Linked DNA regions of Homo sapiens: region 1 is linked to region 2. Evidence: fine-mapped expression QTL. A gene starts in region 2. The other region holds a variant in brackets. All regions are shown on one strand. Distances are from middle to middle. Region 1 overlaps LINC00862 (long intergenic non-protein coding RNA 862). Region 2 holds the start of ZNF281 (zinc finger protein 281).

Region 1 (2,909 bases), 56 kb after region 2:
TTTTACAAACTCTTATCTAGGCAGTGAGCCACTATCTTGATACTCAGTTTCCAAAACCGCTTGTTTCTACAGAGCTCATTTCCAATGTTGCCAATGTTTAGTGCTACAACAGGGATGGGGGTGTGGATGGACCAACAGGCTAGCTCAACATTCTTTTGAATTTGGGTTAAGTGACTGATTTAGGGTAAGAGTGGCTCCCAGGGCCAGGCGCGGTGGCTCACGCCTGTAATCCCAGCACTTTGGGAGGCCGAGGCGGGCGGATCACAAGGTCAGAAGATCGAAACCATCCTGGCTAACATGGTGAAACCCCGTCTCTACTAAAAATACAAAAAATTAGCCGGGTATGGTGGCGGGCGCCTGTTGTCCCAGCTACTCGGGAGGCTGAGGCAGGAGAATGGAGTGAACCCGGGAGGCGGAGCTTGTAGTGAGCCGAGATCGCGCCAGTGCATTCCAGCCTGGGCTACAGAGTGAGACTCCGTCTCAAAAAAAAAAAAAAAAAAAAAAAAAAAAGAGTGGCTCCCGAATTTCTTGGGTAGGAGTAAAAAAGATTTTACGGTATTTTTTTTTCTCACCTTAGTTCTTTAGAATTATGCTGGAAGGAACCAATTCACCTCAAATACCAAGGAAATGGGTGTGATGTAGTAGGCAGAGGAGTAGCCTTTTCCATACTGCCAGCAGAATGGAGACAGACCTGGGCTCGCACACACCACCCGGACCCAGGAGTGGGTGGTTCAATGTGTACTGTTAAGACTAAAGAAGGTTGGCCAGGCGTGATGGCTCATGCATGTAATCCCAACATTTTGGGAGGCCAATGCGGGCGGATCACTCGAGCGCAGGAGTTTGAGACCAGCCTGTGCAACATGGCGAAACTCCATCTCTACAAAAAATACAGAAAAGCTGGGTGTGTTGGCACGCACCTGTAGTCCCAGCTGCTCTGGAGGCTGAGTTGGGAGAATCACCTGAGCTCAGGAGGTTGAGGCTGTGTGAGCCATGGTTGCACCACTGCACTCCAGCCTGGGCGACAGAGACCCTGTCTCAATTAAAATAAAAAAGAAGGTCATGTGAAAGCTCACTGTGAACAGGACTTTTTTTTCTCTGTAGGTGCTTCATTGTTACTTCAGTTTACTTGAACTCATTTCATTGTTTTCACACTGTTATGAAATGCTCTCAACAATAACTGCAACAACAAATAGAGAAGAAAGGAAGTATTTAGTAATATCAAGAGAGGGCCGTGGTTAGCATGAGACATCTTGCGTTATTCACCACTGCAATGAGAAGAAAAAGACTGAGCAAAGGGAATTTCATCCATTTCTCAAGGATTTAGAGAGCTACATGCTCCATTTGAAGGTCACATTGTACATGGTGAGGTCACATTAAGGGAATTGACTTCCTCCTCTAAATCCCCCTGATCTTTATATATTTCTTTCCATGGTTTTATGCTAATACTTTGAAGAACTGAAGAATGTTATGAGGTGGCCAGGGAATGCTATGGTTCCAGGTAAATGTATTTTCAAGGTCTTTGGCAGTCGGTAAACCATTTTCCAGGACACACTTTGGTGTAAGCATACTAGTAGTAATAGTAACAAGTATTAGCAGGAAAAACTATCTTAGTTTTTTGAATTTATACTTAATATTGTTATTGTTCTTACCTTGTTTT[A/G]TAGCTGAGATATTAAGTTCCCTGCTGTGTGCTGAGGGCATTGAGAACCCAAAGATAAAGAGGACACAGCCCCTCTAAAAACCTTTCTAGGGCCCTGTGGCTCCTTGTCCTTGGGTGGAATTCAGGGGCCCTGTGAACTTTTATAGGAAAAGATTACAGTTTTATCACCCTCTAACTGCAATACAGTATTTCCTTCAGTTATCAATGGTAATGACAAGCCACAGGAGTGACAGCTATTCCCATTTATACATATCACTACTTTGAAATAATGGTAGTCATTTGATTTACCACTAGATCAATAACAAGGCACATATGGTATGACAGCCAATAAATGTTTGAATAGTTTGATAACTGTATTTCATAATTAGTTTTCTGCATATGCCTATGTCTATTTTACCATATTTTGAGAAGGCTTTAGGAGGCACAAAAAAAGGTTAAGAACCCCTTTCTGTTTACTATCTCATGAGGAAGGCTAGAAGCTTCAACAGATAAAATCAGTACAAAGTGGTGAGTGGCAGCTAGAAACATGCTCAGGAGCTGTGGAGCACAGGCTTGAGCAGAGATTCAGGGAAGGCTGATGGAGAAGATTCCTGAGCTGCATCTGGAATGAAGAAGAAACAGAAGCAGGAAAAGGTCATTCCCAGGAGAGAACAGAACAGATCTTAGGGCAGGAAATGGCCTATGTGGAAGGCGGGTACTGACAGTCAGAGCTTGCTTACTGTGCTAAGTCTTGGGGGCTCAAGAATGAATGAGGGACCTCCTAGGTGGTCAGTGTGCTCACTGTTCAGAACAATGTTTATGGGGACAGGGTGGAGAGGGGTATAGTTTGAAAAAGGAAATTTTTTTTTTGGACACGGAGTCTCACTCTGTCTCCCAGGCTGGAGTGCAATGGCATGATCTCGGCTCACTGCAATGTCTGCCTCCCAGGTTCAAGCGATTCTCCTGCCTCAGCCTCTCGAGTAGCTGGGATTACAGGTGTCCACCACCATGCCCGGCTAATTTTTGTATTTTTAGTAGAGATGGGGTTTCACCATGTTGGCCAGGCTGGTCTCAAACTCCCAACCTTAGGTGATCCGCTCGCCTTGGCCTCCCAAAGTGCTGGGATTACAGGCATGAGCCACTGTGCCTGGCCGCCTTTCTAGAATTTTATATGAGTGGAATCATACACCATGTGCTCTTCTCTTTGGTCTGGCTTCTTTCACATGGCATAATGCATTTGAGATTTGTTCATGCTGTTGCAAATCAACAGTTC
Region 2 (2,909 bases):
ATTATTTAATTATGAGAAGTTATTTAGCTAGAAACATTGTGATGTACATGTAACTTCATTAAGAAAACATACTATGTAAATAAGCTGTTGTCATAGTTCTAGTTCTTTTATTTAAAATTTCTCATTTATAAATATCCTTTGCTAGGAAAGTGTCTGGTTTAGATTTCTGCATGCTTAACATGAAATCGAGTGCCTTGTGTACATTAGACACTGAATAAATATTTGTTGTTTGATTTTGTTGATATAACTTTGATTTTAAGATTTTACTTCATAATTTTCCCTTACAAGAAAAATTTCTAAATTTGCAATGAGTTTCTCGGTATTCTGTACTGGCGAGGAAAGAGTTGATCCTAGCAGAGCTCTTAGAATGGCCTGGTGGTTAATTTTTCATAAACAATATAAAGGGCCAGGCATTCATAACGTGGCAAACAGACTGATTAGCCAGGCTAAGGTACGGGGGCATTTAAATAAGATGTAATGATAATGAAGTATGTGTGTGGGCGTGTTTTACAGGACTGCTGCACCTGGATTACGCTCGGTTTCCTCTTCCAGTAGCCTTCAGGAAGGTTGGCAGTAAGACAAGTTTTTTTCTTTTTCTTTTTTTTTTTTTTGTTGCAACGGTACCACTAATTGCGGTTTCAAAGCAGGCTCCTCCCATAAATGCAAAGGATATGCGCCCATTATTAGTGCTTCCAAATTCAAAGGGATAACATAAGCACCTGTTTTAATAAATGTTGAGCATTTGGAGTTGAATGCTTCTTGATAGAATCAAAAGTGCCCTCAATGATCCACTTCTAGGTTTGAATTTTATTTCAAGACCTGGATTGCAAAACCTAGAGTGAAGAAAGCCCTAACATTGAATCCTCAGTTTCCCTCACCTTCTCTTCCAGCCCCTTTCTCTGCATCTCCCACGCCACGCTGTAGTACAGTCCCCCGTAACTTCCCGCCCCTTGGGTTCCACCTCCTGAGCGTCTTTCCCCCAGAAACCCTCAACCACTTTCATCTCCTTCAGTGCAGCCCACCAATCACGCCTGTTCGCCTCGAAAGCCCCTTTTTAGCAGGGCTCCAAATCCCCGCCTCCCCTGCCCTTGCTCCCCCGCCTCCGCCCAACGGCCCCAGTGATTGACAGGCAGGCCGGGCGGAAGCTGCGGCGCAGGCGCCCTGGCTCCTTAGCCCTCCCCTCTGGCCGGGTCGAGGAGTTCCCAGCAGACACTGCGCCGCGGCTGCGCAGTACACGGGAGGCTTTTAATTCCATTGTGGAGAGGACGGCGTTATTTTTATTAACTGGAGGCGACGGCGGCTGCGGCGGCGGCGGGACCCGTAAGTATTGCCGGTGGGTCCAGGAGGGAGAGGGCGAGGCCTGGGGAAGAGTCGCAGGACCATGCGTGCCGGTGCCGGAGGCGACTGGGCTGGGAATTAGTGCTGGGCGCGTTGCGGTCTGGGCGGCGGCGCGGCGGGGTCCTTAGCGCTGCGGTGGTCCCGGCCCGGGGCCCGGTTCCACCTCCTTTCCTCCCTCTTCCCTCTTCCTCCTCCTTTCTTCAGCCAGGCCTCCTCCGGGGTATGAAAATCGGCAGTGGGTTCCTGAGTGGCGGCGGAGGTACCGGCAGTAGCGGTGGTAGCGGCTCCGGCGGCGGTGGTAGTGGCGGCGGCGGCGGCGGCGGCAGCAGCGGCAGGAGGGCAGAGATGGAACCCACCTTTCCCCAGGGTATGGTTATGTTCAACCACCGTCTTCCCCCGGTCACCAGCTTCACCCGGCCGGCGGGGTCGGCCGCCCCTCCCCCGCAATGCGTGTTATCCTCCTCTACCTCCGCAGCCCCGGCCGCTGAGCCCCCCCCTCCGCCAGCCCCGGACATGACTTTCAAGAAGGAGCCGGCGGCGTCAGCCGCGGCCTTCCCCTCGCAGAGGACCTCCTGGGGGTTCTTGCAGTCTTTGGTTAGCATCAAACAGGAGAAACCCGCGGATCCTGAGGAGCAGCAGTCCCACCACCACCATCACCACCACCACTATGGGGGGCTGTTCGCTGGAGCTGAAGAGAGGTCTCCAGGCCTAGGAGGCGGTGAAGGGGGGAGTCACGGCGTCATCCAGGACCTCAGTATTCTCCACCAGCATGTCCAGCAGCAACCAGCCCAGCACCACCGTGACGTATTACTCAGCAGCAGTAGCAGGACTGATGACCACCATGGCACTGAGGAGCCAAAGCAGGACACTAATGTCAAAAAGGCAAAAAGGCCAAAGCCAGAATCTCAGGGAATCAAAGCCAAGAGGAAGCCAAGTGCATCTTCCAAACCTTCTTTGGTTGGAGATGGAGAAGGTGCCATCCTCTCCCCAAGTCAGAAACCTCATATCTGTGATCACTGTAGTGCTGCTTTCCGAAGCTCCTATCACCTGCGGAGACATGTCCTCATTCATACAGGAGAAAGACCTTTCCAGTGCAGCCAGTGTAGTATGGGTTTCATTCAGAAATACCTACTACAGAGACATGAGAAAATTCATAGTAGAGAGAAGCCATTTGGATGTGATCAGTGCAGCATGAAGTTTATTCAGAAGTACCATATGGAGAGACACAAGAGGACACATAGTGGAGAAAAGCCATATAAGTGTGACACTTGCCAACAGTATTTTTCAAGGACTGATAGATTGTTGAAGCACAGGCGCACATGTGGTGAAGTCATAGTTAAAGGAGCCACTAGTGCAGAACCTGGGTCATCAAACCATACCAATATGGGTAATCTGGCTGTGTTGTCTCAGGGAAATACAAGTTCTTCAAGGAGAAAAACAAAGTCAAAAAGCATAGCTATTGAAAATAAGGAACAGAAGACCGGTAAAACAAATGAATCGCAAATTTCAAATAATATAAACATGCAGAGTTACTCAGTAGAAATGCCTACCGTGTCTTCCAGTGGAGGCAT

The links. PIP is the estimated chance that this variant, and not a neighbour inherited with it, causes the effect. A credible set is the group of variants that fine-mapping cannot tell apart.
Region 1: its variant is the best candidate, but not a certain one, in a credible set for the expression of ZNF281 in whole blood (INTERVAL, PIP 0.82).

Annotation. Positions count from the first base shown.
Region 1 is chr1:200,352,765-200,355,673 of GRCh38, reverse strand. The region is part of intron 4 of LINC00862 (long intergenic non-protein coding RNA 862); the gene reads left to right. Among named protein-coding and RNA genes, the nearest start is that of LINC00862, 20 kb to the left of the region's middle. RefSeq lists enhancers at 1-289, 2,099-2,599, 2,600-2,909. The variant A/G (reference allele first, on the strand shown) is at 1,658.
Region 2 is chr1:200,408,357-200,411,265 of GRCh38, reverse strand. It overlaps ZNF281 (zinc finger protein 281), which reads left to right and starts at 1,230. Exons shown (of 2, transcript NM_001281293.2): 1 at 1,230-1,320; 2 at 1,543-2,909. The coding sequence starts at 1,561. RefSeq lists enhancers at 652-701, 248-825, 826-1,403, 1,404-1,981 and a silencer at 1,042-1,221.